Linked DNA regions of Homo sapiens. The protein of the gene in region 2 interacts with the protein of the main gene of each other region in a biochemical or structural test. Each region holds a gene or a part of one and is shown on either strand. Other genes may lie near its edges.

Region 1 (10,404 bases), on a different chromosome or scaffold from region 2:
AACGTTGGGGTAGGGTCTGCTTATCCTCAGTTATGTAGATCTCTTCCAAGGCTGCCCTTGTTTATGATTTTGTGGCTAGTGTATGTGTGAGCTGCAGTAAAAGTACTCCTTACTCCTGAAAAAGGCACCAACAGTAATCATAATGTAGCAGAAAATTGACATGGTATCCTGAGATTCTTTTCAAAAAGGTCTAAAAGTCTGTAAAAGCACATATGATGGCATTAAGTCTAATTTTGGCCATTCTTACCAATTTAGCACAAATAAATGATATGGTACTGTTTATTAAACTATTGTCTCAGGTCCACATTCCCCCTTCTATACATTTCTCTGTAATGCTGTGGCTCAAACCCTGCAAACTACATTTTTTTCTATGTCAGCTGGTGTCTCACTAGGTTCCATCAATAAAGGGCATTAGAGGGAGACTGGAAGGCAGAAGGGAAGAAGGGACTTCCTCCTTTCCATTTGTTTGCAGTTTCTGTCACTGTTATCCCAGCAACAAGCAAGAGCCCTTTGCTCCAGCAGCAGCAATTGATTTCAGCCTTGAGCTTCTTTTGACATCCTCCCCATCCACAACTAGCCTCATCATATCCTTCCCTGAAGTAGTAGGATCAGCCAGACAGCATCCTCTCAGGGGTCTGAGCAATACTCAGCCAGGTCATTTGTCTGAGTTTCTGAGACCTGATAATCCACCTTGAGTCCCCATTTTCACTAGATCTATCATTGACAGCTGCTCCCTGCAGTTATCACCTCTGGGTAACCTCAGTGTTCCGTTTTTGCTTTTTCAGTCAATGAAAACTCAATACTAAATCCTCTCTGTAGTAATATCATCTAATTTCTGATTTCCTGACTAACATATCTCTAAACCTTCCCCAAAGGAAACTACAGCCATCAGCAGGGTACTGTGCTTTGGGAAAATGTCAACATTTAGATTTTTTCAGGGATTACTAGACAGTGGCTCTCAATAGAAATTATACAAACTGAAAAAAGAATGAACAGAGCCTGAATGACCTGTACTAAGTACTGAGAAGTCTAGCATGAGTGTAATTGTAGTCCCAGAAGAAGAGGAGAAACAGAATGGGACAGAAAAAAAAATTTGAAGAAATACTGGACAAAAGTCTTCCAAATTTGATAAAAAAAAAAAAAGAAAAGAAAAGAAAATGAGAAACCAGCAATCCACAGACCCAGGGAATGAAATGAACCCCAAGCAGGATAAATACAAAACCAAAACCAAAACAAACATCACAGTGTAATGAAACATCACAGTGTAATGAAACATCACAGTGTAACTTTTGATAAATATAATGAAAATCTTATAAGCATTCATAGAAAAAGACACCTAGAAACATCAGTGTTAACTTTTGATAAATATAAACAAAATCTTAAAAGCATTCATAGAAAAAGGCATAAGACATACAAGAAAACAATGATAAGAATTACAACTAGTTTCTCACAGATATAATGGAGGCTGGAAAACGAGAATGACATCTTTAAAGTGCTGAAAACAAAAACAAAAACCCTTTGAATGGCTTCTCATTGCCTATAGGATAAACTCTAAGGTGCCTGACTTCCATAACCTGGTTATTGATTATATTTCTAGCTATCTTCTGCTCTAGCAATATTCTACTATCGTTTAATACCTTTTTATTATGCAGGCTCCTCTATGTGGACAGATTTTTTCTAGTTAATTGCCTGACTAACCTGGCCACACAACTCCTTTCCCCTGTGGCTTAATGTCCTCCTTGCACTGGACTGTCTATAACAATTTCTAACTATAAGCTATCAGGTTTCTGGGAAAGGTCTTGACATGGAGGCTCATTTTTCCCTTTCTTGTGTTCCCAAATTCTTTTATTTTGGATTAATAAAGTAAGCCACCTGCGTGTTTTTAATCATAGACAGATTAGCTGCCCATATCCAAAGCTCCACGTGTAGTCCCTAGATAAGTTTTGTTTTTGTTTTGAGATGTGGTGTGATCATAGCTCATTGCAGCCTCAAATTCCTGGGCTCAAGCCATCCTCCCACCTCAGCCTCCAGAGTGGCTGGGACTACAGGCACATGCCACTATGCCCAGCTGATTAAAAAAAATTTTGTTTTGTAGAGACAGGGTCTAGCTCTGTTGCCAGGGCTGATCATAAGTTTTGACTTACATTTTCTTGTTGCCTGATTCTGGTTAGTCCCTGATCCACTCAGCACTAATTAGCAAGGATGATTCCTGTTTTTGGTTTGAGTTCCCCTGAAAGAGAGGAAGCAGCAGCCATGTGCATGTTTATATTTGGAAGCTGGGGAGACAGACTGTGTGAAAGGAAGTCTCTGGGACAGCTCCCACCCCATTAAAACATGTACTGCATCCCTTCTAAGTGCAATTACATACATGCCTTTCTGCCTATCTGCCCTTCCAGTCTATGCTTTCCTTTTTCATTGCTGTTTGCTTATTTTTCTTCTTTGACTCCTCTTTTGCATATATTTTTGGAGGTTTCTTAAATTTTTTTAAAGAGTTCCTGTTAAGAATGAGTGATGAGAAAGATTAAAGAAGGAAAATTAAGAGGATAAACTAGCTGGGTGCTGTGGCTCACGCCTGTAATCCCAACACTTTGGGAGGCTGAGGTGGGTGGATCACCTGAGGTCAGGGGTTTGAGACAAGCCTGGCCAACATTGTGAAACCCCGTCTCTACTAAAAATACAAAAAATTAGCCAGGTGTGGTGGTGTGTGCCTGTAGTCCCAGCAACTTGGGAGGCTGAGGCAGGAGAATTGCTTGAACCCGGGAGGTGGAGGTTGCAATAAGCTGAGGTGGTGCCACTGCACTCCAACCTGGGCAAAAAAGCGAGACTCCATCTCAAAAAACAAACAAACAAACAAAAACCCTAAATGTATGACTTCAGCATACTTTTTGCTGGGTTAATTTTCCCCACTTAAGGTGGTGGTAAGCTACATGAAGGCAAGAACTGTATTTCTGTATTTTACCTGTTGTATTTATATTCACACCTTCTGCCTCCATCGTATGTTAAATATGTAATTAGAATTAAAATTGAGTCACGCTGTGCTAACAGTTTGATGGGTGATTTTGCAGCAACAGTTTTAACTCTGGACAAGTTTCTTCAAAAATGAATATAATATCTCAGTCTGTAAACTTTATAAAATGTATCAACAAATAAAACCATTGTATTAGCTTGGGCTGCCATAATAAAATACTAGATTGGGTGGCTTACACAACAGAAGTTTATTTTTTCAAAGTTATGTAGGTTGGGAGGTCCAAAAGAGGGTGCCAGCATGGTCAGTTTTGGGTGAGGGCTCTCTCTCTGGCTTGCAGATGTCTGTCTGCTTGCTGTGTTCTCAAATGGAGAGAGCTCTCTGGTGCCACTTTCTATAAAGACATTAATCTTATGGGATTAGGGCCCCACCCTTATGACCTAATTTAATTTTTATTACCTCCCTAAAGGCCTAGCTCCAACTAGAGATGGTCCCTGACTTAAGATTTTTTTGACTTTATGATGGTCCAAAAGCCATATGCACTCTAGAATCTGTACTTTGAGTACCCATAAAACCATCCAGTTTTTCATTCAGTATTTAGTAGATTACATGAAATACTCAATACTTTATTAAAAAATAAGCTTTGTATTAGATGATTTTGCCTAACTGAAAGCTAATGTAAGTATTCTGAGCATGTTTTAGGTAGGCTACTCTAAGCTATGATGTTTGGTAGGTTAGAAGCATTAAATGCATTTCTGACTTAAGATCTTTTCAACTTAAGGTATTTTCAGTTTATGGTGGGTTTATTGGAACATAACCCCTTTGTAAGTTAAGGAACATTTATATAGTCACATTAGGAGTGAGGGCTTCAGTATGAATTTTTGGGGGGGATGCAATTCAGTCCATACCAGTCATGATAAAATATGCAGTTATTTAAACCCTTAGAATAAACTCAAAATTCACCGCCATTATTCACTTTGGATGCTAATAACAGAATGTAGACATAGAGTAGCTGTTGCCCAGTTTCATGGTCTACTTGTCCCAGTCAACCTGAGGATAGTACAGCATAAATAGGTAAATTTGTGCTTGACCTTGTGATCCTACATATGGCAGGCTGTCTTAGTCCCTTTAGTGTTGCTAGAAAGGAATACCCAAAGCTGGATAATTTAGAAATAGAAAAGGTTTTTCGGCTTATGGTTCTGATGTCTGGAAAAGTTCAAGACTGAGCATCTGCATCTGATGGTAGCCTAAGACTGCTTCTACTCATGCCAGAAGGCAAAGGAGAGCTGGTGTGTGCAGAGATTACATGGCCAGAGAGGACGCAAAAGAAGAAAGGAAGTGCGACGTTCTTTTTAACCAGCTCTGGTGGAAATAAAGAGAACTCATTTACCCTCTCCCCAGGGAGGACATTAATCTATTCCTGAAGGAACCACCTCCATGACCCAACACTGCCCATTAGTCCCCACCTCCAACATTGGGGATCAAATTTCAACAGGAGGTTTAGGGGAACAAACATCTAAATTACAGCACAGGCCAACCACATGCATGCATTACCAATCACGTAAATAATTTTGAAGTTAAATGCAGAAAACTGCAAACTTTTGAGGCTGATATCCAGGGCCAGGATTAAAATAAAAAGTATTAATGCCTTAAACAGTATTTACTGACCATCTACCCTACTGCAAGGCCCTAGGGAGAAACTGAACAGACATGGTTACTGATTCAACGGAGTTTACAATCTAGGTAGACATACAGGCAAACCATTTCAATAGCTCGGATGGAGAAAACACCTGTGCTCCAAGGAAGGTACCTAACTGAGCAAGCTTCCCTGAGGAGCGATCCTAAACTGTGCCACAAAGATGGTTAAGAAGAGATGAGGCGGCTGGGCGTGGTGGCTCACGCCTGTAATCCCAGCACTTTGGGAGGCCGAGGCTGGCGAATCACGAGGTCAAGAGATCGAGACCATCCTGGTGAAACCCCGTCACTGCTAAAAATACAAAAACATTAGCTGGGCGTGGTGGTACATGCCTGTAATCCCAGCTACTCGGGAGGCTGAGGCAGGAGAATAGCTTGAACCCGGAGGCGGAGGTTGCAGTGAGCCGAGATCGTGCCACTGCACTCCACCCTGGCGACAGAGCGAAACTCGTTTCAAAAAAAAAAAAAAAAGAGGCAGGTTACGGCGCGGGGGCGGGGAAGGGGGCCTGCAGCACCGGCGAGGGGAAGAACCAACTTACTGATGCCTCAGCCAGTGGCTGGAGCCCTAAGAATGGACAGACCTGGCTCCGAAGGTCCTCTTCATAACACTACTGCCGCCAAGAATGTAAGCTGCCCAAGCACGAGGACACTTTTAGAGGGCCCTCAGACTCAGCTTCTTTTGGTCTGTGCCTCAAATTAAGCACATGTCTTACATTTCTCCCAGGTCCCAATTTTCAGGTCTGCTTTTCTTTGTTTTTCTTTGTCGCTCCCCGCTCCTAAGAACCTTCGGCTGGGATGACATTCTTCAGGTGCAGAAACCAGGGGGAAGCTCCCAGAGCAGTGGGGGCTGAACTCAGGACACAGTCATTTTTGCTGTTAAGTCTCTCCTGCGGCGCTGAGGAGGCAGGCTCAAAGTAACCAACCAGAGCAGCCGCAGAGGGAAAAGCTAAGACAGTTCTGGTCCGGCCCAGCGCTTCTCACCCTCTAGCTCTCTACTCTCCGCCGCGCAGCCTCCGCTCCCTCCACATCAGGCACGGCGCTTGATTGACATGAGGGCCCGCCCAATCCCAGTGCGGCAGAGACCGTTGTCGCGTCAGGGACCGGGGAAGGGGGCGACTGAACCTATCAGATTGGGTCCAGAGTGGGTTTCCTGCCCGCGCGGATCCGCCTGCCCACCGCGCGTGCCCCGCCTCTCTCCCAAGAGCTACGCGGCGGCGGCGGAGCGCAGGCCTCGTGCCGTTACGGCCATCACGGCGGCCGCAGTGGCGTCCTGGAGCCCTCCTCAGGTGAGCTGGAGCTGCCCGGCTCGGCAGCGGGAAGGTGAGACGGCCTTGTTGGCAGGCAGACACACACACACCCCCCTTCAGTCCGCTGTCCGTCCATACAGCCTGTTACTCGCTGCGTCGCTTCCTCTTCTCGCGCTGAGTTAGCCCCGGGGGCGCCGTCTGCAGGCTCGGAGCCGAGCCGGAGGGGGCGCGGAGGCTGCTCGGAGGGTCCAGACTTCTGCACCGGGATTCCGCGAGACCCTCGGGCCGTTGCCCCAGGGAGCGTGACCCCGCGGCCTCCTTGTCAGCCCCTGGAGCGCTGTGTCGGGCTGAGAGCCCGGGCGGCCGCCCGTGCGAGCCTGGGAGGTCGAGTGTGCGGCGCGCTGGTTGACTTGTCTGTTTTCTCATGAAAAAGTCCTTTTGCCAGCTGTGGCGTAATCCGAGGCCGGGAAGGTAGGGACGTGGTAGGAGGAAGGGCGCTCTCACCTCCAGCCCGAGAGGAGGGGAGGCGTCAGCCTGCGCGGTGCTGCGGGTGGACATCTTCGGGACGCGCCCTCTCCCCTCCCCCCACCCACCGGCCGTTTTCTAGTCTGGGGCTGTGACTTTAATGGTCTGGACCTGCTTCAGATTCGTACGCGAGTTGCTGGGGCTGTGAACTTTTGACTTGAGTTGTAATATGTTTGGTAAAACAAAAAACCATTTCGATAGGTTTTGTAACCTTTCTTCTGTATTAACATACAAGTTAAATTCGCCGTTAGAAGCTCAGGAAGCTGGGTTTTGTTCAGGGGTGAGGACGTAACCGTAGGAACGCTCTCGGTGTCAAACTGATGGACCCGGAGTCACCTGAAAATAATTATGCACGTTAGATTAGGTAAGAAGCCCTAGAAATTAGGAAAGAATTAGGTTAAAGAGAATTTCCTAACTCCTCTTTGGGTAGGGAGCAAAGCAGCTCAATGTCCTCCCAAAACGGGTGTTGCCAAAAGGTACTCATTTTTAAAATTTTACTTTGATAGACGTATGACAAACCAACTATAACGATTTCTTCAGCACCTGGAAACCAGTGTGCCTAGACTCTCAGCCTTCGGCGAGGTCACACAGTAAACGGAGAAATAACCTAAGAAGAAAGTTTTGTTTGGTAATTGTCAATAATATTCGTTCTTTTCTTTTTAAAACACTTAATTTTCTTGTGGGGGGTGGAGTCTGTGATATTCTTAAATAGGCATCCCATTCACAACTTGATAGTAATATGCACTGGTTGATAAATGGTGCTTTCTTTTCATCTTGACCACAAACTCTGAGACTTCTTTGGGAAAATTGTGATCTGTGGAAATTGGCTGTAATATCCATAAACATAGTTTGCAGAGTGTTCACATCTACTCAGCTGTTGGCTCATGTATTAAATTTTAAAATGTGTACTTATTTTTCTAGGCATTATCTTTTGTCCAGGTTTTGACAGTGCTTTCAGGTCCATCTAAATAAAATTTGAAACCTACGTGTAATGTTTTGTTCGATACTGAGGGAGTCCAGGCGGGGTAGCTCAAACCTGTAATCCCAGCACTTTGGGAGGCTGAGGCGGGCGGATCACGAGGTCAGGAGATTGAAACCACCCTAGCAGACACGGTGAAACCCCGTCTCTACTAAAAATACAAAAAAGTAGCCGGGCGTGGTGGCGGGCGCCTATAGTCCCAGCTACTCGGGAGGCTGAGGCAGGAGAATGGCGTGAACCCGGGAGGCGGAGCTTGCAGTGAGCCGAGATCGCGCCACTGCACTCCAGCCTGGGCGACAGAGCGAGACTCCGTCTCAAAAAAATAAATAAAATGTGTATTTATTTTTCTAGGCATTATCCTTTGTCCAGGTTTCTGCAGTGCTTTCAGGTCCATCTAAATAAAATTTGAAACCTACGTGTAATGTTGGCCGGGCTCGGTGGCTCACGCCTGTAATCCCAGCACTTTGGGAGGCCGAGGCAGGCGGATCACGAGGTCAGGAGATCGAGACCAGCCTGGCCAACACGGTGAAACCGCGTCTCTACTGAAAATACAAAAATTATCCGGGCGTGGTGGCACGCACCTGTAATCCCAGCTACTCGGGAGTCTGAGGCAGGAGAATTGCATGAACCCGGGAGTCGGAGGTTGCAGTGAGCCAAGATCGCCACTGCACTCCAGCCTGGCAACAGAGCAAGATTCCGTCACACACACACAAAAAAAAAACAGAAACAAAAAAAACCTATGTGTAATGTTTTGTTAGATACTGAGGGAGACCAGGCGGGGTAGTTCAAGCCTGTAATCCCAGCACTTGGGAGGCCAAGGCGGGAGGATAGCTGGAGGCCAGGAGTTTGAGATCAGCCTAAGCAATGTAGTGATACCCTGTCTCTAAATTAAGAAAATATAAAAAAATTTAAAAAGGAAAATAATAAAGAAAAGAGATACTTAGTGATACTTCATGGTTCTGGGTTTTTTTCTTTTCTTTTTTTTTTTTTTTTTTGAGACAGAGTCTCTGTTGCCCAGGCTGGAGTGCAGTGGCACGATCTTGGCTCACTGCAACCTCTGCCTCCCGGGTTCAATCGATTCTTGTGCCTCGGCCTCCTAAGTAGCTGGGACTACAGGTGTGTGCCACCATGCCTAGCTAATTTTTTTGTATATATATATATTTTTCTTTTTCTTTTGTTTGTTTTTTTTTTTGAGACGGAGTCTCACTCTGTTGCCCAGGCTGGAGTGCAGTGGCGGGATCTTGGCTCACTGCAACCTCTGCCTGCCGGGTTCAAGCAATTCTCTGCCTCAGCCTCCCCAGTAGCTGGGATTACAGGCGCCTGCCACCACGCCTGACTAATTTTTGTATTTTTAGTAGAGGCAGGGTTTCACCATCTTGGCCAGGCTGGTCTTGAACTCCTGACCTCGTGATCCACCTGCCTCGGCCTCCCAAAGTGCTGGGATTACAGGCATGAGCCACCACGCCCGGCCTGTATTTTTAGTAGAGACGGAGTTTCACCATGTTGGCAAGGCTGGTCTCGAACTCCTGACCTCAAGCAATCTGCCCACCTCCGCCTCCCAAAGTGCTGAGATTACAGGTGTGCGCCACCGTGGCTGGCCTATATTCATTTTTCAAAAATTTTCTAGAGTTTTACATTTTCATTGCTTTGTACTTTTACTTTGTCTTATTTTACTTTTTCACCATGTGTTTTTCAAAGCTGAAGGTATATTTGATGTGATTATTATAAATCACTTGTCAGGAAGACTTGACTTAATGAATACAGATACAGTTCATTTTTAAAATCATGGTTTAATAATTTTTAGAATTTACCTTTATAATATAGAAAAATACCAAATGTTCTTTATCTGCACTAGAAAATTAAATGATTATTTCATTAATAAGTAAAATTGAAGGGAACTTTTGAAATCACTGAGCAGTTAACAAATTCTCTATAAATACTGTGATGTTAGGAAGACAACAAGGCTAAATATGACATTTAAAGATTTAAGGAAACTTTATGTCTGGCTGATCCTCACCTTAAACTCTAATGAAGATAGAATTTATAGTCTTCCCTTCAAAACTGATTCCATATGCTGACTTTGTTTTGGTGACATTACCATGCTTTCAATTACCCAGACACAAACTTTGGTTTTATCTCTATGCGTGTAACAATATTGGCTGATTTTTGCCAGCCATTTTTATCTTTGAACTACTCACTAGCCTTTAATTGGGTTTTTTGCTTGATTTTTCTCTCTACTTAGTATGTCTTCCTAAATCTTAGAATTATGCTTCAAACACATCCTTCACTTTTCGGAAACCAGTGATAACTCTCTGTTATCTTCAGAGTATAGTTCAGAATTCATAGCCTAATAACAGTCTGCTCAAACCTGTTTTTCTGGGGCCAGCACTATTTCTTTCTTTTTTTTTAATCAGTGCCAGCACTATTTCTTTATAGGAGCTGTCCACTCTAACCAAACCAATCTCTGATTCTTATTTACTCTTTGTATTTTTGTACCTTCGTATCATTCCTTTTTCTTTCTTTCTTTCTTTTTTTTTTTTTGAGACAGAGTCTCGCTCTGTTGCCCAGGCTGGAGTGCAATGGTGCGATCTCGGCTCCCCGTAACCTCTGCCTCCCGGGTTCAAGCGATTCTCCTACCTCAGCCTCCCTAGTAGCTGGGACTACAGGCATGCGCCACCATGCCTGGCTAATTTTGTATTTTTAGTAGAGACGGGGTTTCTCCGTGTTGGTCAGGCCAGTCTTAAACTCCTCACTTCAGGTGATCTACACATCTCAGCCTGCCAAAGTGCTGGGATTACAGGTGTGAGCCACTGTGCCTGGCCTCTTTCTTTCTTCTTTTTTTTTTTCTTTGAGGCGTCTCACTCTGTCACCCAGGCTGGAGTGCAGTGGCACCATCTTGGCTCACTGCAACCTCCGTCTCCTTGGTTCAAGTGATTCTCCTGTGTCAGTCTTCCGAGTAGCTAGGATTACAGGTGCATGCCACCACGCCTGGC
Region 2 (10,748 bases):
GTGCATATTTCAGTAAAATGTTTCTTTCAAGGTCAGCATGATGAGAATATTCCGAATGCTTTGAAGGATTCTACTCTTCCTCCTCTTTTTTTAAAGAAAATGCAAACATGTACTAAAGTTGCTTTTGAAATAAGACATTTATCCATTTAGTAATTGCTTAACTAGAGAAGAATTACTTCATTCAGACACTCAAGAATGTCAACAGTCTTATTTATAATGTATTTAATAGAGTACCTTCTTTATTAACTACCTGTAGATCCAAACTTCAGGCTGTTCTAAACAAGAAACTAAGAACTTAATAAGCAGTTAGCAGACACTGAGGGTCTCATTGTGCTTCAGTGGCCCAAAAAGAGTAGATACAGACATCTAAATTGCCTATTTTATGCCTTTATGTATTGTAGAAATCTGCCTTACTGTTTTGTGTAGCCACAGAACAGAAATAGACTAACTTTTTTTTAGTAAACTCTCTGGAAACAAAAATCTTCCCAGATATTTATTGTTAGGAAAATATAATCTAAAAATTCTTCTGCCCAACCCCTTGGCTGCATCCCAGTCTTCCATCTGCTTTGTGCAGTTGGATTCCCTTTGCTCTTTACTCATAAATGATTCTCTCAAGCATTAAAAGTCACCTGATAGACACCAAAGCCATAATTTGCAAGATCCAGGTGGAAGGCATTTTGTACTTTTGTTCTTACTTTTATACTGGAAATATGCAATAAGGCTAAAATTCGTTTTTTAAAAAAAGACTTCCCATTTTTTTTCTCTTGGCTAATGTAGTAGATTAGCTATGTTATTTTCAAAAATTTGCATTAACTCTAAATAAAAAACAGAATAACATTTGTAAAAAGAAAAAAGATTAGAGAACACAAAGGCTTCAAACTGAGATACAATAAATTTTTTGTCCAAAATTAAATCCCAAATCAAGAAAACAACCTTTAGATCTGTTGTTTTAGCAACTAATAATCTGCTGTGCACATTTCAGTTGGTATTTGGAAAACATTTAACTCTGTAGCTTTGTAGAAATGATATTCCCACTTGAACATAGAGGAAATTGTACTTATTGAGAGTTTAACTCAAGAGTTAGTGCACAACAAAAGTTCATTAGTGCCCATTTCATGTTCTGGAAAGATAAAATATCAGCATCCTATAGAGATGTCTTATTTGTATATACAGCATTTCAGAAATCAATGGGATACTCAAAAGATTAAACAGGAACATCCTTTACTTATGGAACACAGGATAAAATAAATCTAAAATTAATTGTCATACATCGTTTTTGAATGAGAACCAAATGACCTATCCTACCACCTCTAATTGTGAATACAGGTTTTTCAAGAGTGTACCTTCTTCCTCATTTATTTCTAATTGCCAGGCATTGCCAAACAAAAGTTAATTCTGGAAATTCTTGTAAATGAAGAGAGGTTTTTGATCAGAGAAGGTGTTGTTTGAAACAGCCAGAAGATCCAGCTTGCAACAATTACGGACAAGCTACTGTGTCTTAATATCAAGCTAAAAATTCCCTGGTCCACTGATGCAAGACTTATTTTACTCAAATTGTGAACAAAAAGACAAGTGGTAAATTAGGAGGGAAAAAAGTGAAGCAACTTTTATTAAATACCATGCAACCATCTGGCACCACTCCGCAAAGTTGATTATTGACTAACTTTAATAGCAGACATTTTTGTCTATTCCTTTAAACATTTTGTGGAGGAAATGTCCTCTGTATTGGGGGGGGTGGGGGGACAGTTGGAGGTGGGGGGCAGATAGTGGTTGAGTGTGAGTTGGAGGGTAGAAGGAGGAAATTAAAAGATGCATTGATAAAGCAGTAGGGTACAGGAGTTATGCAAGCAATAGTTTATGTAAAGCCACAGAGAGAGTGGCTTATGCCAGAAACAGCAGGTCCTTCCAAATTTCTCAAGCTTTGTCCTTGCTAACAGTAAGCAAGCCTAGGAGGGGATGCTTGAAGAACCTGGTAAGCAACTGCCCGGCTCTCCCACTAACAAGTCCATGGATTTCTCAGTTAAGGTTACTTAAAATTGCAAAAGCTATTCACTTGCTGAAGATTGTCAAAAATCACTGAATTTTATAGCTTTAAGAGAGAATCTTACAGATCAAGAAGTCCCAAGCCTGTATTTTTCCAGATATAATCATTTAAACAATCCTAACCTTTGTGAGGAAAGTATAGGAGGCCAGGCAAGGTAGACAGAGCTTGAGGCCTTGGCAGTTGCTTCCTTTTGATCTCTAGGGGAAGGGGGTGGGGGTTAATATGTATTCATTAATTAATACCAACATTGTATTGAAAAAATTGCAATTAGTCAATGATAATGGGTTCTTCTGAACATTTTACATGACAAACAAATATTCTTAAGTTTAATTTCAAAAAGACGTGGAGTTTCTTTCTATTTTTTTTTTTAAGATGGGCCTTGCTCTGTGCCCTCAAACTCCAGTCTACAATCTCAAACTCCTGGGCTCAAGAAATCCTCTTGTAGTAGCTAGGACTACAGGCATCTCTCACTACACCTGGCTAGTTTTTTTTTTATTTTTTGTAGAGACTGGGTCTCACTATGTCTCCCTCCTCAGCCACCCAGAGAGCTGGGATTATAGGTGTAAGCCACTGTGCCAGGCCTAGCCCTGGAGTTTCTAATACATTGGTGATACAACTCTGAGATTTCTAAGCATGGATTTGTAAATGAAGAGCTGGAGCTTAATTTTTCTAATTCACACAGCACTGTTTCAACATTGTCTTATTCAGTGGTTCTCAGCCTGGGAAAGAAGGAGAAAGGTGATTTTGCCCCCCAGAGGACATTTGGCAACATTTGGAAACATTTTGGTTGTCATGACTGGGAGTGTTATAGGTATCTAGTGGATAGATGCCAAGGATGTTGCTAAACATCCTACAATGCACTGGACAGTCTCTCAAGGAAAAATGATCTGGCCCAAAATGCCAACAGGGTTGAGATTGAGAAACTCTGGTCTAATCTGAACACTCTGAATATTATTAAAACATATGGTGAGATCAAGAATTTATTACTGCATTTTCGTTAATACCAATTTGCTCAAAGGCAGTTTGAAAAACAGACCCTGACTAAAATTGCATGTGCGTTATACAGGGAAAAAAATATGACACATTTGTGATTTGAAAAGGAAAAAAAGCTGAAGGGAAAAAATTAGATATTTTTATTCATAAGAGCATTGCCATACAATTTTCAATGCTCCAGAAAAATAACCTTCTTCCATTGACACTGTGCTGAAAGAAGTGAGTAACAAAATGGTTATAAACTATCCTTCTCACAAATTCTAATCTATTATCAGACTGTTATTTCTAAAATATATTAATACACCATCTAAAAAACAGCCCTCTTATCAGAAGCTATGATACATAATAAGTCAGAAGATAAATGCACCAGTAGGAATTTATTATAATTTTTTTAATTTCTCTGGATTACAGGGCACGTAAACTCTGTAGGAGGTGCTTATTGGAGAGTAATTCTGTGATCCAGAAGACACTAGAATGTGTTCAGCCATTTAGCACCCACCCACCCCCTTTCTTTTCCCTTTCCTGGTAAATTTTCCTTTATGTTCATAAGGACAGATGCCATTGCTGTGGGAATCACTCTGGTTTAAGCCTCTTGAGAAAAACAGTAGCTAACTATATTAGTCCGTTCTCACACTGCTATAAAGAAATACCTGAGACTGGGTAATCTATAAAGAAAAGAGGTTTAGTTGGCTCACAGTTCCACTAGCTGTACAGGAAGCATTATGATGGCATCTGCTCAGCTTCTGGGGAGGCCTCAGGAAACTTACAATCATGGCGGAAGGTAAACAGGGAGTATCACCTCACGTGGCCACAGAAGGAGCCAAAGAAAGGTGAGGGGGAGGTGCCACACACTTTTGAAGGACGAGATCTAATGAGAACTCACTCACTATACAGTACCAACTGCGGGGTCGGGGGGCAGGGGTGGCAGTGGGGGTGGTTGCTAAACCATTCCTAAGAACTCTGCCCCCATGATCTAATCTCTACCTCCCACCAAGCCCCACCTCCAACACTGGGGATTACAGTTCCACATGAGATTCGGGCAGGGACACAAATCCAAGCCATATCACTAACCTTATCTAAATACTGGCCAATAGGATAAGCAAAATCATTTTTATAGCTTCCTTCAAAAAATCTTATGTATTAAAATGTTGAAATGTATAAGAATTTCATCAAAATAAGAACCTCACCAGATCTGACCCAAGGGAGAGAAGATTGTTCAATAAAAAATTACAAATGGATGAATAAATGAATCCTCTCCTTTCAAGTTCTGTGCTCCATACAACAAATCTAGATGGGTCTCATTTAGATGGGATTTAGAGACACCTTTCTTAAATACCTATCATTTTACGAATGAAGCTGTTGTCTAAAGAGTCCTCTTGGCCACTTCCTGAAAACAAATCAATTATTTGTGATAACTCTCAAATGTCCTAATAATCCCATGGAAAATGTAAATGTAATGAGGACCAAGAATTATAAGGTAAGAAGTGCTAATGTCAGATTTTTACCCACTACATAAGCCCACTCTTGTACTAGGGCAGTGACTTTCTTCTTTGGGTGAGACCTTGAAATCTGGGATTATAATTTTGAATTATAATTATAAAATGGTATTTGGCTGTAAATTATCTCCTTTTTTTTTCTGTTCCTCACAGTTGATATTATGGATTCCCATAAGGATTCATGTCTTCTATTCACTTTAATGAACAGTTGTTGGGCAACAATTCTAGAAGAGTTCCAATTCTCATCAGGAGAATGGACAAGGTGGAGAAGCAGAGAAAATGCAATGAGTAGAATGTCTAAGTCATCACTTTGGAATTGACTGAACATAAATAAAAATGAGAAAGATACGTAAAAAAGAAGGGAATGGGTAAGCAGGGTGATGTCTGGGAGAGGAGGGGCTCCATAGCCATGAGAGTCAACTCTGTAACACCCTATAGGGTTACAACACTGCCCTTCATATACTGAGGTAGCAGCAGGGAAACTTTTTAATTATTAGAAATATTGAACTTTGCCTCCCACCCCCAAACATTTTTCTCATTCAGTTCCTGTTCTTTTTTATTTCTGTAATTTTTACTGTTTCAAAAATGATCTTTTTTCTTTCGGAAGAAGCAATTCTTCAAATCCAGTTCACATAAGGGGATTTGATATGTTCAACAAGCTCCAAATACACTGTATCCAGCAATACCTACTACATGCCTACTTTGAGCTCTGAGCAACCTGCACCTCAAGCCTAGTTCTCATTGTTTTGCTTTTGGCAAATTTTCACTAAGTGCCCTTCCTCCCCAAACACACGTATATGTCTACCAGACCCTAAAGCCCTTTATGAACATGCAAACTCCTCCCTTCTGAAAACCTTTGCGTGAGTGGTCAGCAGGCTAATTCATCCATTGCAATGTGGCTTTGTGTTAGGGTTCTGTTTCCGTGCTGCCTGCAAGATAATCACAGATGTGACTGCATCTTAGAAGTTCCTGAATCTTTCAAGACAGTCTGGTTCACAAGAAAATTAAAAGGTGGAGGTCGGGCGCGGTGGCTCACGCCTGCAATCCCAGCACTTTGGGAGGCCGAGGCGGGCGGATCACCTGAGGTTGGGAGTTCGAAACCAGCCTGACCAACATGGGGAAACCCCGTCTCTGCTAAAAATACAAAATTAGCCAGGCGTGGTGGTGCATGCCTGTAATCCCAGCTACTCGGGAGGCTGAGGCAGGAGAATCGCTTGAACCCGGGAGGCAGAGGTTGCGATGAGCCGAGATCGTGCCATTGCACTCCAGCCTGGGCAACAAGAGCGAAACTCTGCCACACACACACAAACACACACACACACACACACACGGTGTAGTTTAGGAAGTAAAAAAAAAAAAAAAAAAAAAATCAGATCTCCCCTCACACCTCAGATCTGAAGGCACAAACTCTAGGGCCAGGGCGTTCGCCTACCCAACTCCACATGCACTTGCAGGTCACCTAGCACTCAGGTACCTAGCACTCAGGTACATTGTGGCTCCTTACCTCTCACGACAGCAGCAACAACGTTGATTGGAAGTTTATCACTGTGTGTTACGGGCCATGGGCCATGTGTGTTAGAATTTTATGTGAAATTAACATTTAATTCTCACGGACACCCCTGAAACAGATGCCACAGCCCCCATTTTGCCAACGAGGCAGCTGAGGTTCCCAGAGGCTCAATACCAGCACCATGAGCCGCAGCACGCAAGGCAAACACAGCCGGAGGTGAGCACATACCTGCTTCGCACCCCATGCGCCTAACCACAAGGTTCCCTCCCTCCAGGAAGGCCGTTGTCTTCCCTGGGACGACTTGCCAGCTCTGAGGCATGACAGTACGGGCCCCCAGAAGGGTGACCAGGAGGCCCTCCTCGTCCCAGCTGCCGGCGTCGCCGCCCACTGCAGGGCCCGGGCTGTGACTCGTGGGGACGGTTCCCTGCGCCCCGGCGGGGGAGGTGGGCGGGGAGGGGCGGCGGGGCGCCGGGGCGGGGCTCGGGACGGCCGGGCTGGGAGCTGGAGCCCACAGCGGGAAGCGGCCGCCGCCCGGGCCTCGCAGGGCTAGGCGAGGCGAGGGGGGGCGGGGCCGGGCGCTACGGGAAGGGGAGGCCGCGCGGACCGGGAGCCGCACCGCGCCAGCCGGGCTGCAGCGGCCGCGCACCAAGGCTGCGATGGGGCTGGAGACGGAGAAGGCGGACGTACAGCTCTTCATGGACGACGACTCCTACAGCCACCACAGCGGCCTCGAGTACGCCGACCCCGAGAAGTTCGCGGACTCGGACCAGGACCGGGATCCCCACCGGCTCAACTCGCATCTCAAGGTGAAGCCCGGGGCGGGCGGGCCCAAGTCCCCGCTGAGGCCGGGAGGTGCGGGCGCCCCTCAGCCCCGCCCTAACCCGTCCCACCATTGCTACCGGGTCGGCCCCGCAGGGTCTGAGACCCGCACCCTTCCCCGGTCCCACCCGTCACCAGGCCGCCCGCGTAGCCAGGAATTCTTAGCCAGGTTCCTGTGCGCCCACCGTGACCCTAAGAGAAGAGGCGGACGCCCTGGCACGTCCTTCCCTCCTGCTTCCCCCGCCCAAAGCGCTCCCGGTTCCCGGGGCGTCAGGTTGGCTGACAGTTCGGGGTCCCTGCGTCCTGTCTCCTCAGCTGGGCTTCGAGGATGTGATCGCAGAGCCGGTGACTACGCACTCCTTTGACAAAGTGTGGATCTGCAGCCATGCCCTCTTTGAAATCAGCAAATACGTAATGTACAAGTTCCTGACGGTGTTCCTGGCCATTCCCCTGGCCTTCATTGCGGGAATTCTCTTTGCCACCCTCAGCTGTCTGCACATCTGGTGAGACGGGGCACACCGGGTGGACCGGCTTTCTGAAACATGGGCATATTCTCCGCCACCTGCCCCCTACTCTCCTCTTATCCCAGGCCGGCGTCAGGAGGAGGAACGCGCATCAGTTCCCAAGCAGTAGGAAGAACTGGAAGGCCTTGAAAGGCAATGCGCTTCCTTTAGAATAACAGTTTGGGCTTGGAGTTTCAACAGGAGAAAGAATGTCGGTCTTTCCTGGGGTGTGATTTTCCTTGCATACATAAGGCTGGGCTGAGTGTGGAGGCGGGTACCTGGAAGCCACACTTCTTACCACAGGCTGCTCTCGGGGCCCTGTTGTGACTCGTACCTGCGGTTCTGGGCAGGACTCTTCTTTCTTTCATTGCCTTTTATTCAGTCACTGCCTGTGCTTGGGGTAAAACAAAAGTGATCTCTGAGCAGAATGCCGCTGACAGTAGAATTGGATGAGGATGTCAGACCTGGTTAAGCAGTAGTGTGGAGGGGCTGCTTCAACTTTGCCCCTGGCAGATGGCAAGGATGGGACCCAGAGGAAAGGGAGGTGTGTGCAGTTAAGGCGAGGGTCCCCCCCAGTACAAACGAATGAAAACTCCAGCTGCGGGATAATGAATGAGAAGGCCTCCAAATTACTTTTTCACTGATGAAACACAAATGGAAGTGGCATATAATTAAAGGGGAAAGAAATATGGAAGCCCACTGTATATTGATAGGATATTTTGAGTAACTCTATTCATACTCAAAATGTGTCCTAAACTGTAGAGAACTTTCTTAAGCATCTTTTAAATTTTTTATGGAAAATGTCATATTTTACCAATAAATGTTGTTGTGTTAGAAAATATCCACTTTAATCTGAGAGGAAGAATATTCAGATCATCCCCAGTATCACAACAGTTGTCACGCTAGTGCTTCAGGTTAGTCCTGGTGAAAGGTATAACCCAAGGTACCTCCGTGTCTTTCTTACACCTTTTATGATATTGCCACACCCTGATAAATACTCGGTGTTCATTGTTAGAAGTTACCAATTTATCCTTTATTTCTCTATACCACCTGAATCTTAATTTATTTAGTCAGTTAGCTAGCTAGTTAGTTCAACAAACTTTAAATTGATTGAGTGCTTAGTTTGTGCTGGGCACTGGGCCAGGATGAATGAGAGATAGGGTCTGCCTTCAGCTTACTCACAGCCTTATCAGGGCAGCTGGCTAGGTACAGAGATGGACGCTGAGAAAACACAGTCAACTGACAAAGAGGGAGGAACAGACAAGGCTTTGAAGAGTGAAAGGAGTCGAAAAAGACTTTGAAAGGATAAATGAAAATTCACCAAATACGTAAAGGATACACAAAGAACACCAATTTAATTTTATCACTAAAGGTTGTAAACAATTAAACTATGTTGAAGGTGCCAAGATTGCCAGGGAAATGAAAATGTTGCCTTAGTACATGATCAGCTTCATGAAGGTCAAATGGATAGTTATATTCTGACATTTGCACTTGAATTTTTTTTAAGATCCCTGAGTTGGCACATAAGATTTGGGATTCCCAATTAACTAAAACTAATCATCTAACCTCTATGTCAGTTTTCTCACTTTCAAAACTGTGAAAAACTGAGTGACCGCATAGCATATTGTGAAATGCTGACTATGAAGCTATTTGGAAATGTGAAGTACCATATTTATAGTCAACAAAGCTAGGCTTCCCAAAGCTTTTGTGAAAGAATTTGAAAAAAAAAAGTTTCTCATTTACTAAGTGGTGGAAAGATATAAGTAAAACTACAATTAACCAAGCAATGCCTCTCTCCAGCTGGCTCTTCTGAGAATGGGAGGTGTTTTTGTATAGTGCTTCAATTGGTGAATCATCAATGCACCTTTTTTTAGCCACATAAAATGTATTATTTAATATTATTTAACTTCAGCTTGTTTTTTTAACTATATTTATGTGGGGCATTAATATTTAACTGTAAAACATTTGTCACCAGGCAGCTGTGATTGCAAGTAGAGGAGTAATTTCAAACAAGAATGCTTAAAAGTTAGCTATGCCTTGATAAAATAGGTTTATCATTAATAGATTGCATTCCCATGACATGATAAGACCAGATCAAGGACAGACCTTACAGAATTGCAAACCCATTTGGGCAAGCTTTTTTTGTTTTGTTTTCTTTTTATATATATTTTTTAAAGCAGGGGCTTGTGTATTGTTTTTACCAAAAAGTTAGTGGTGACCAAAGCTAGGAAAATATGCAGTAGTGGAACTTTGAACCATGTCACAATATTAAAACAGGTCAGATTTTAGATCCTTTAAACAAACAATCAACAACAATAAAACACAGAAGTCTGGTGGTGTTGGATCCTAGACCAGAAGTACGGGCCATTAGGAATCAGTGAATTAGTTGGATTCCATACTACAGTCAGACAGAGATAGCTGCTGTTTGTTAAGCACAGGTTATTGGTCATAAGTGGATCATAACCAAAGAAATGTGGCTGGAGCACCCATATCCCTTATTTTTGCTGGAATGCAAAGCAAACAAATGCCCAACTGATGGAAATGCGATAGTAGCAATCTCATTTCTAGAAGACAGTTTTCATACAGTAAATTGCTATGAATGCAGTCTGCATGACTCTACAATTACTACAACACTAAATAAAAGTCTCTATCCTATGGCCTTATTATCCAAGGATATATATTATCCAAGGAATATATAACCTTACATATATTAATATATATAATATATATATATTATAAGATTTACTTAAGAAGTATTGGCCACATTCAGCCTCAACCAAATTTTGGGTCAATCAGAACTGCCTGGAGTTTCAGAAGCTAAACTATTTGTGATGTTGAGAACCCAACTTAAGTTTGATGTCGGAGGATCATTAGATTCTCTGCTCCAAAATGAGGGAACACAAGTAAACAAAAATAAAATCCAAATGAGTTAACAACACCCTATAAACTGAACTCCTCGAATGTGGGTAACTGCTTTGCTGAACAAGAAGATTCACTTTTGACATGTGCTAAATTCCCTTTTAGGACATGGAGATCTAAGGAGTCACGGAGATAGAAAATTTGTTAGCCTAAGGAAGAATAGAAAGTACATTGTATTCTGGCTGGGAGCAGTGGCTCTCGCCTGTAATCCCAGCACTTTGGGAGGCCAAGCTGGGCAGATCACTTGAGGTCAGGAGTTCAAGAACAGCCTGGCCAACATGGTGAAACTCTGTCTCTACTAAAAATACAAAAATTAGCCAAGCATAGTAGCAAGTGCCCATGATCCCAGCTACTCAGGGAGGCTGAGGCAGGAGAATCACTCGAACCCGGGAGGCGAAGGTTGCAGTGAGCCGAGATCACTTCACTGCTCTCCAGCCTGGGCAATAGAGTGAGAACCTGAAAAG
Region 3 (10,603 bases), on a different chromosome or scaffold from region 2:
GAAAAAGCACATGAAAAGATTTTTCAAGCTGGGCGAGGTGGCTCACGCTTGTAATCCCAGCATTTTGGGAGGCTGAGGCAGGTGGATCACTTGAGGTCAGGAGTTCAGGACCGGCCTGGCCAACATGGTGAAACCCTGTCTCTACTAAAAATACAAGAATTAGCCAGGCGTGGTGGCAGGTGCCTGTAATTCTAGCTACTTGGGAGGCTGAGGCAGGAAAATCGCTTGAACCTGGAAGGTGGAAGTTGTAATGAGCCATTATTGTGCCACTGCATTCCAGCCTAGGCAACAGAGCAAGACACTGTCAAAAAAAAAAAGAAAGAAAGAAAAAGATTTTCCAACATCATTACTGTGATGGTTAATATTAGGTGTCAGCTTGACTGGACTGAGGGATGCCTTGATGGCTGGTGAAGCATTGTTTCTGGGTGTGTCTGTGAGGGTGTTTACAGAAGAGACTGGCATGTGAGTCAGTGAATGAGGAGAGTAAGACCCACTCTGGGTGGGCACCATCCAATGCAGTCGGCTGCCAGAACAAAGCAGGCAGTAAGAGAAACAGAGCCAGCGTGCTGAGTTCCCCATCCCCTTCTAGTGAGGGATATTTTGCTTTTGCCCTCAGGCATCAAACTCCAGGTTCTTTGGTCTCTGGACTCCAGGACTCAGGCTAGCAGCCTCCCTGGGGGTCTCAGGCCTTTGGCCTCAGACTGTCAGCTTTCCTGGCTTTGAGGCTTTCCAACTTGGATGTGGTACCAGCTTTTTTCATTGGCTAGCTTGCAGATGACCTATTGTGGGATTTTGACTTTGTAATGGCATGAGCCAATTCTCCCTAATAAACTCCCTTTTATATATGCATGTATCTTATTGATTCTCTCTGGAGAACCCTGACTAATATAATTAGACATTAGAAAAATGTTAATCAAAATCACAATGAGATATCAGTAAAAACAGAAAGGCTAAAATAAAAAATGATATCATCAAATGCTGGTTAAGACACAGAGAAACCGGATCTTTCACACATTGCTGGTGAGAATGTAAAAATATATAGCCATTATAGAAAATGCTGGCAATTTCTTATAAAAGTGAACATGCAACTATCATACAATCCAGTAATTGTACTCTCGGGGACTTAACTGACAGAAATGAAAACTTATGTTCACACAAAAACATATATACAAATGTTTATAGCAGCTTTTTTTTATAATACCCAAAACTAGAAATGACCCAAATGTTCCCCAATGGCTGAACGGTTAAACAAACTGTGGCACATCTACACCATGGACTACTATTCAGCAATGAAAAAAGGGCAAAATATTGATACTTCAACTTACACGAACTTGACAAATTATGCTGAGTGACAAATGCCAATCCCAAAAGGTTACATACTATTTGATTCCATTTTGAGGCAGGTTATCATTCTGTCACCCAGGCTGGAGTGCAATGGCACAATCATAACTCACTGCAGCCTCAACCTCATAGGCTCAGGTGATCCTCCCACCTCAGCCTCCTGAATAGCTGGGACTATGGTGTGCAACACCACGAACAGCTAATTTTTGTTTTTTTTGTAGAGACAAGGTTTCGCCATGTTGCCCAGGCTGGTCTTGAACTCCTGGGCTCAAGCGATCCAACTGCCTCAGCCTCACAAAGTGCTGAGATTACAGGAATGAGCCATTGCACCCAGCCCGCATAATCTTCTTTAAATGACCACAGGAAAAAAAAAAAAAAAAAAAAAAAAGAACAAATTAGCAGTTACCAGGGAATAAGGAAAGAGGAAGGAGACACTCTGGTTATAAAACACAGCATGAGAGATTCTAGTGGTGAAGAAACTCTTCTGTATCTCTAGTATGGTAATGATTATACAAATTTACATGTTACAATACTGCATAGAACTAAATACTAAATATATCACACACACATACATGCACACACACAAATGAATATATGTAAAACTGGTGAAATGTGAACAAAATAGGTGGATTACAGCGATGTCAATGTCCTGGTTTTGATACTGCACTATAGTTATGCAAGATGTTACCACTGAGGTAAAATGGATGAACAAGTACATCTCTAACTTATTACTTTTTCTTTTCTTTTTTTTTGAGACAGAGTCTCGCTCTGTCGCCCAGGCTGGAGTGCAGTGGCATGATCTCGGCTCACTGCAAACTCTGCCTCCCAGGTTCACGCCATTCTCCTGTCTCAGCCTCCCGAGTAGCAGGCACCCACCACCACGCCCAGCTAATTTTTTTTTTTTTTTGTATTTTTAGTAGAGACGGGGTTTCACCGTGTTAGCCAGGATGGTCTCGATCTCCTGACCCTGTGATCCACCCACCTCGGCCTCCCAAAGTGCTGGGATTACAGGAGTGAGCCACTGCGCCCGGCCCATCTGTCTTATTTCTTAAAACTGCATATGAATCTACAATTACCTCAAAATAAAAAGATTTAAAAATTAGAGAAATGAATCAACATTTAGATAGAAAAGAATATAGGTGAGATACGGTCTATCGTTACACAAGTGTCTAATATGAACCCAGTTTAGCAAGTTATTCCTACAAAAAACACTTAAAAGAGGTGAGGGAGATCTCTAAGTCTTTCCCTTAGCTTGAGACAGATGTATTAGCGAAATTTTTAAAGTAAAATGTTACAACAATGAACACACATTGAATACAGAAAATTTGCTGGAGTAACAGCTTATCCATAGGATATTCCATGGCTACCATGGTCATGTGTAGGATCTTTCCACACTATAATAATCAGACATGCATTTAAATATGCTTTCCATCTTTCAACAGAGGTACAATCAAAAAAGATAAAGGTCACTGACTAACAAAGAAAGAGGTAAAGTAAGGCAAGATTTTCTCTCCCACAGTGAAAGAAATTAAAAGAATGAGGACCTTATTTCTCAAGCAGCAGACATGCATTTAATCTGTTCCAAAATAATCCAAATCCATTTTTAAAGATGTAGAGTTACCCATGTATTAGTCAGTTTGGGCTGCTATGACGAAATACCAGAGTCTGGGTGGCTTAAACAACAGAAATTATTTTTTCACAGTTCTGCATGCTGGAAATTGAACTATCAAAGTGCTGGCAAGCTTGGTTTCTGGTCAGGCCTCTCTCCTTAGCTGACAAATGAAGGCCTCCTCACCATGTCCTCACATGACCTTTTCTTGATGCACTCATACTCCTGGTACCTCTTCTTATAAAGGTACCCGTCCTATAGGATTCACCAGCCACCCTTATGACCTCATTTAACCTTAATTACCTCTTTTAAAGGCTGTATCTCCAAATTCAGTTACATTGGTGGTTAAGGCTTCAACCTATGACTATGGGGGACAGGGGGGAACTATTAAGTCCAAAATGCCAGTTACTGCCAGCCCTGAAGTACGTTAAGTTTTATCTGGGTGCATATATGTGTGTACATTCTACGTAATGGAAAGGGGCAAGACAAAATAAAAAGCATAGTATTTACATTAAAATTCCAGCTCTATCACTCAGTTTCCTCAACAATGAGGATGATGCCCATTCTCACTATATCATTGTAAGAATTAAATAAGATAATCTATATAAAGTACCTGACATCTAGCAAATGATTAGCAAATACTGAGCCTTTGCTTCTAGTCCTCTCTAAAATTTAAAAAAAAATGAATTATAAATATTACTCAAATCTAAATATATGTGAAACAGTATGAGAATCGGATTCTGTCCCAGTTCTACCACTACCTAGTTATATGAACTTAGCTAGGGTGTAGGGTGGAGTGAAGCAAGTCACTCTACCTAAGGCTACTTCTGTATCTAAGCAGAGAAGCTTCCCTCTGTAACTAAAACTCTATGTTACACATAACAACTTGACTACAATTTGAAACACAAATGTTACAAAAGTTAATCACACTTTCTCACTGTAATAATCCTAAATGAATGATACTGAAATTTCCTTCAAGAGAATTATGGTATGAAATTTCAGTATCATTCTTTCATTTACTTTCATTCTTTCACTCTTTGGCAACTATCCTCTGAATTTGAAAAATTTACCTGCACAACGTATCTGTAGACTACTTTTATCATCTTATTTCCCTACCAGTAATGCCTCATCTTCCAACTAGACTGTAGAATTGTATATTTCTTTTTGTCCCCCATACTGTTCATTATTTTACTCACTAAATCACATAACCACTAAAACACCTAAAATCATCATACCCTAAATCCTGTAGAGATGTGACAAGACATACATAGTTATCAATAAGTTGTATCTAATAACAACAATTTTTAACGCAGCACAAAACTGAAATGTACTGCCAGTGATTTCAAGGTAACACAGAAATACCTGCATATTCAAACAATAAACAACATCCGTATTCAGTATTTTTGGTTTAAAATTAAGGTAATGGTAGCCAAAAAGCAACATCTATTGTGGAGAAATTTGACTCATTTAACAAAAGACAACTTAGCTTGCTGGGCCTGAAGGAAGAACTCATAAGTATTTGTCCTATCTCCCAGCCTGTCCCTCACTACTAGTATTCTATTATCTCGTATTACATGAAAATAAGTAATACACATGGTACTGTTACTTTGATGCCCTGAGGAAAGCTCAACTTGCTGTATTCATGCCATTTTATAGTCCCCTCCCATATTTAATGCACACTGGGTTATGTGACCAGCACTCACCATTGGAACATTAGCAAGGATGAGGAACACAGAAGCTTGATAAATACCGGCACACTAGGGCTTGGAAAGGTCTTTCACGGAACTGCCATAGCTGCCATGCTATGAAGAAGGCCAAGCTGGCTGGGCACAGTGGCTCATGCCTGTAATCGCAGCACTTTGGGAGGCCAAGGTGGCAGATCACGAGGTCAGGAGTTCGAGACCAGCCTGGCCAACATGGTGAAACCCCATCTCCATGAAAAATACAAAAATTAGCTGGACGTGGTGGCACGCACCTGTAATGCCAGCTACTTGGGAGGCTGAGACAGGAGAAATGCTTGAACCCGGAAGGCGGAGGTTGCAGTGAGCCATACCACTGCACTCCAGCCTGGGCGACAGGGCAAGACTCCATCTCAGGGGGGAAAAAAAAAAAGAAGGCCAACCTTCTTCAAGTGGAGAGACGACATGGGTAGGAAGAGAGAGGGAAATGCCCAGCCATCTACCAGCTGCTCCAGCCATCCCAGTTGAGGCACTAGATTTATGAGTTAAGAAGCCACAGTGGACATTATAGCCAACAGATCACATGTGGAGAAGTCACCATAAAGCCATACACAAATTTTAGAATCAAGGGCAAATACACAATTGTTTTAGCCACTATGTTTTGGAGTGCTTTATTATGCAGCAATAGATAACCAAAACAATACAAATAAACCAATTAGAACTGTTCCTGTTTGGCAGTAAGCAACAACAACAAAAAATGTCAGTGGTAACCATTGTTATAGTTAATAATCACTATAAAAAATCTTCTTCCCAAAAGGTACTTTTCTGGGTATTTAAGTGTTCTTAAAGGGACTCTGTTCATTTCACCAATGGCCAGTAAAGAGAGAGAAGTAAAGCAACCAGAAAGTCTACTCTTCGTTTTTCCTTTTCCCTTCCTAATTTATGGCTGTCCTTTTTAGCTTTGCCAGTAATGTTTGCCTGTTTTCCCCAGAGTGGCTAATCAATGATCCATACCGATTCTAGCATTCAACTGTGCTCTGTACCTCAGTCACTACAGACATCACCGTCAACTTCCCTCCAGACCACAGGTAACTAAAAGTTCTGTAGACCAGACTCTTCACTAAGGGTGAAAAGTTTAAACTCATCTAATTCATAATTATGTTTTCCTGATAGAATCATTAAGCGAAGAGCATCAGAACCAATAACCTCTTGCTCAGAAAATAAATTAAGTAGCAGGAAAAACATACCTGCTATTTTTCCTCAAAGAATTTACTGATCCTAATTACACAAATTTCTTTTTCTTTTAACCCTCATGACCTTTGCTCATACTTCACTCGTGATATTTATCTTAACCTAGCCTGAATCACAGTAATTGGTTTACTTAATTTCCTACTAGATCTAATACTCCCTTTTCTCCCATTGAGAAAAGGGGCATTTTACTCTTGCAACCCTTGAAGCACCTACTATATTTCTCTGCTACTTATACAAATACAGTAAAAAATATGAGTTCTGGTCATCAATCATTGTCCGTAACTAATCTTAGCAAGTCTCACCCCCATTTTTATTAAGAAACAATGGCTCACCCATATGTATAATGCAATCAGTGACAAAGTTAATGAATGCTACATGTTCTAACATTAACCTTCACCAATTATTTGACTTAATAAGAATGATTTTATTTTTGTAGAGACAGTAAAATGATTTTTTTAAAAAAGAAAGGTACTATTTACATTCCTTATTTTCTTTTCCTTAAAGTTTCAGACTTGAGAAGTCTGAATATTAGGTTCAGCATAAGATCCAGGCCAGATGCCAGGCAAATACTGCAATAGCAAAGGCAAAGCAGACCTGGTGGAGACTGCAAATGGAGACCTCAGTACCCACCTAAAAGGGTCAACCGCTACTCAGCTCTGGCAATCTAGTCTCAAGCAGGAATGGCCACCAGGTATAGCCAAGTCCTGTGGGTTTTCTAGAGATGCTAGAAGTTGAGACTTCTTAAATATGAAATCTTCCTATTGGCCGCGAGGTGGCTCACGCCTGTAATCCCAGCACTTTGGGAGGCCAAGGCAGGCGGATCACCTGAGGTTAGGAGTTCGAGACCAGCCTGGCCAACAGAGTGAAACCCCGTCTCTACTAAAAATACAAAAATTAGCCAGGCATGGTGGTGTGTACCTGTAACCCCGGCTACTGGGGAGGCAGAGGCAGGAGAATCACCTGAATCCGGGAGGCGGAGGTTGCAGTGAGCCAAGATCACACTACTGCACACCACCCTGGGTAACAGAGCAAGACTCCATCTCAAAAAAAAAAAAAAAGAAAAAGAAAAAGAAAAGAAATCTCTATTCTTAAATGGTGACAATTATCAAATATTCCAAATACTCTAAGGGCAAGCAGTATATATCTGTGGGTTGGATTCTCACCAATGGCCACTTGCTACTGCAGACTCACAGTTAAAAATCTCTACATATAACTGATGGTGCACTACACAAACAATATACCTTTACCACCACTGCCCCTCACCCTGCAGAAGAAAAAAAATGAGAACCATGAAAAGAAACTCCAAAAAATTATGGAGTACTAGTGACAAACTTCTTTAATTTAACCTTTTCTCTCTCGAAAAAGAAATCTGTTAACAGTTTTAGATATAGAAACTTTTATAGTAGAGAAATAGAGAGGAAGAATTTTTTTTATTTTTATAATTTTCTCAAAACTTTCAAAAATATTCAAATAAATAGTACAAATTACATAAACATTTCCAGCCTCAACCAAACTAATGAAAATGCTCAGTAATAAAAATGAGACTAATGATTCACCACGTACACAGAAAAACAAGGTACAAAATACTAATTAATAGTGTTAATTTATTTGCACTGGTGTATCTACATATTGTCATTTGACTCTTTTGTGATCAATAGCACAAAACTGGGAACAAAGTTGAACTAACTTCCTGACCATGGAACACTCGAGTAACAAGCCACTTGTGGACTCAATCCTGTGACCTAAACCCCCTTAATACCATGCTATCCATAACTAAGGGGACCAGTTACTCATAGTCAGTATTTAGTCCAACATTTCTTCAATACTTTTACAAAAGATAAATATTATTTGAAAATGTCTTTAAGGCTTTTCCTTCCACTTAAAAATATGAATATCTACATTCAGGAATAGGAATTTATAGAGAACACTTGAATTTCACCTCTAAAATTGCTTAACCTACTGCTAGAAGCCCTTATAAAGTTAAAATAAAATTCTTAATATAATTAATCGTGGTAGGCTTGATTTGGAGTTCAAAACATTCTGTAAAATAGTCATTTAACAAGGGAGATTCTCTAACCAAAAGAATTAGTAGACAATTTAGTGCTAGTAAAATATTACAGTTATGGGCACAGGGGACTACGTATTTATCGAACACTTACTATGCCCAAGTACTGTGACGAATACATCAAGGTATTCATTAAATCTTAAAAAAAAAAAAACAATCATATGAGGAAGGTACCATTCCTATCCCCATTTTACGGATGGGGAAACTGACCTTTCCAAGAATACCCAGCTAGTAAGTGGCAGAGTCAGGATTCCAACCCAAATCTTGTCTAACTTCAGAATCTGCACGCTTAACCACTACACTGCATTGCCTCCAGTGACTCTGGGTTGATAACTAAGATGAAATAAGAAGGAAATTTGTACTTCTCAGTGGCAAATTTTAAAAACATATTATAAATGGAGGGTATTTTTTAGAACATGAACAAGTTTCATATACATAGTCATACAATTTTTATTTCCAAATACATGTAGTAATGGTGAAAATCCCACACAATGAATTTCTCACAATTTTTCATAAGTACTCAATCATGGTGTTTTTTTTTTTTTTAGACAGGGTTTCGTTCTTGCTGCCCAGGCTAGAGTGCAACGGCAGATCTCGGCTCACTGCAACCGCCCCCTCCCTGGTTCAAGCAATTCTGCCTCAACCTCCAGAGTAGCTGGGATTACAGGCGCCCGCCAACACGACCGGCTGATTTTTTTTTTTTAGTAGAGACGGGGTTTCACCGTGTTGGCCAAGCTAGTCTCGAACTCTGACCTCAAGTGATCCACTCGCCTTGGCCTCCCAAATTGCTGGGATTAGAGGCGTGAAGCACCACCCCCAGCCCAATCGTGTTTATTACTAAAAATTTAATGGGAACACCCTGTATTTTCCCCTCAATTTTGCTGAGAACCTAAAACTACTCTAAAAAACAGTCTATTGGGCCAGGCGCGGTGGCTCACACCTGTAATCCCAGCACTTCGGGAGGCAAGTGGATCACCTGAGGTCAGAGTTCGAGACCAGCCTGGCCAACATGGCAAAACCCTGTCTCTACTAAAAATATGAAAATTAGCCAGGCCTGGTTGCGGGCACCTGTAATCCTAGGTACTCAGGAGGCTGAGGCAGGAGAATCGCTTGAACCTGAAGGCGGGGAGGGGCGGGGCGGAGCTTGCAGTGAGCCGAAAACACGCCACTTCACTCCAGCCTGGGCGAAACAGCGAAACTCCATCTCTCAAAAAAAAAAAAAAAAAAAAAAAAAAAAAAAAGAAGTCTACTAAAAACAGTTTTTTTTAACTACAATATCCTAAATATACCTAATTTAGTTATAAACTAGCATAAGACTAGATTCTTTCAGTATGAAAAGTTGCATTGTTTTTCATAACCATTGTACCAAGCATGCTATTAGCATTTAATAAAAATTGAACTATTTTTTTCAAAAGCAGTGCTGTAATATTGTTTTTTTGTTTGTTTGTTTGTTTTGAGACGGGGTTAAGCTCTTATTGCCCAGGCTGGAGTGCAATGGCAGGATCTCGGCTCACTGCAACCTTCGCCTCCCGGGTTCAAGCGATTCTCCTGCCTCAGCCTCCTAAGAAGCTGGGATTACAGGCACCCGCCACCACGCCAGGCTAATTTCGTATTTTTAGTAGAGACGGGGTTTCTCCATCTCGGTCAGGCTGGTCTCAAACTCCGGACTTCAGGTGATCCACCCGCCTCGGCCTCCCGAAGTGCTGGGATTACAGGCGTGAGCCACCGCGCCCAGCAAAATTGGAATTAACACTCCCAGAATACTCCCAGGGACTCTGCATTACAAAGACATTAAAATATGAACCAAACTCTGACGAAAGACTTGAATCCTTTATTGAGGAATATAAAAAGTGGAATACTACATCCCGTTGGCTGGCATAAATATGACTAACTTTACTTTTCCCCTTTAAGTATCAAAAGATGTAGCCTTAAGTCAAAAATGGATTAGGGTAACAGAATCTTTTCCTAATTAGTTTCAGAACTTTCTAAATGCTCCAAAGAAGCTTATCCAAAAAAAAAAAAAAAAAAAAAAAAAAAAAAAAAAAAAGGCCGGGCACCGTGGCTTACGGCTGTAATCCCACCACTTTGGGAGGCTGAGGCCGGCGGATCACCTGAGGTCAGGAGTTCGACATCAGTTTGGCCATATGGCGAAATTTCGTCTCTATTAAAAATACAAAAATTAGCCAGACATGGTGGCATGCGCCTGTAATCCCAGCTACTAGAGAGGCTGAAGCAGGAGAATCTCTTGAACCCGGGAGGCGGAGGTTGCAGTGAGCCGAGATCACGCCACTGCACTCCAGCCTGGGCAACAAGGCGAGACTCCATCTCTGGGGTGGGGGGAAGGAAAAAAAAAAAAACCTCTGAATTGTCCAGAGTGACTGTCAACATATGAACCAAATCTTTTTTTCTTGATATTCAACAAAGTTGTCAAAATTCTTTTTTTTTTTTTTTTGAGACAGAGTCTCGCTCTGTCACCCAGGCTGGAGTGCAGCGGCACGATCTCGGCTCACTGCAACCTCCGCCTCCTGGGTTCAAGCGATTCTTCTGCCTCAGCCTCCCAAGTAGCTAGGATTATAGGCGCGTGCCACCGCGTCCGGCTTATTTTTGTATTTTTAGTAGAGACAGGGTTTCACCAGGTTGGCCAGGTTGGTCTCGAAC

Evidence for each region.
Region 1: the proteins of CAV2 (region 2) and NCK1 form a complex in vitro, tested with the Homo sapiens proteins (one study listed by BioGRID).
Region 3: the proteins of CAV2 (region 2) and RASA1 form a complex in vitro, tested with the Homo sapiens proteins (one study listed by BioGRID).

What each region holds. Positions count from the first base shown.
Region 1 is NC_000003.12:136,856,374-136,866,777, forward strand, and holds the start of NCK1 (SH2/SH3 adapter protein NCK1), read left to right. Parts: upstream 1-5,834; 5' UTR 5,835-5,980; intron 5,981-6,075; exon of another isoform or gene 6,076-6,378; intron 6,379-6,772; exon of another isoform or gene 6,773-6,796; intron 6,797-6,938; exon of another isoform or gene 6,939-7,060; intron 7,061-10,404. UniProt on the Homo sapiens protein: Adapter protein which associates with tyrosine-phosphorylated growth factor receptors, such as KDR and PDGFRB, or their cellular substrates. Maintains low levels of EIF2S1 phosphorylation by promoting its dephosphorylation by PP1.
Region 2 is NC_000007.14:116,493,083-116,503,830, forward strand, and holds the start of CAV2 (caveolin-2), read left to right. Parts: upstream 1-6,655; 5' UTR 6,656-6,699; coding exon 6,700-6,849; intron 6,850-6,963; exon of another isoform or gene 6,964-7,177; coding exon 7,178-7,365; intron 7,366-10,748. UniProt on the Homo sapiens protein: May act as a scaffolding protein within caveolar membranes. Interacts directly with G-protein alpha subunits and can functionally regulate their activity.
Region 3 is NC_000005.10:87,270,036-87,280,638, reverse strand, and holds part of RASA1 (ras GTPase-activating protein 1), read right to left. Parts: intron 1-10,603. UniProt on the Homo sapiens protein: Inhibitory regulator of the Ras-cyclic AMP pathway. Stimulates the GTPase of normal but not oncogenic Ras p21; this stimulation may be further increased in the presence of NCK1.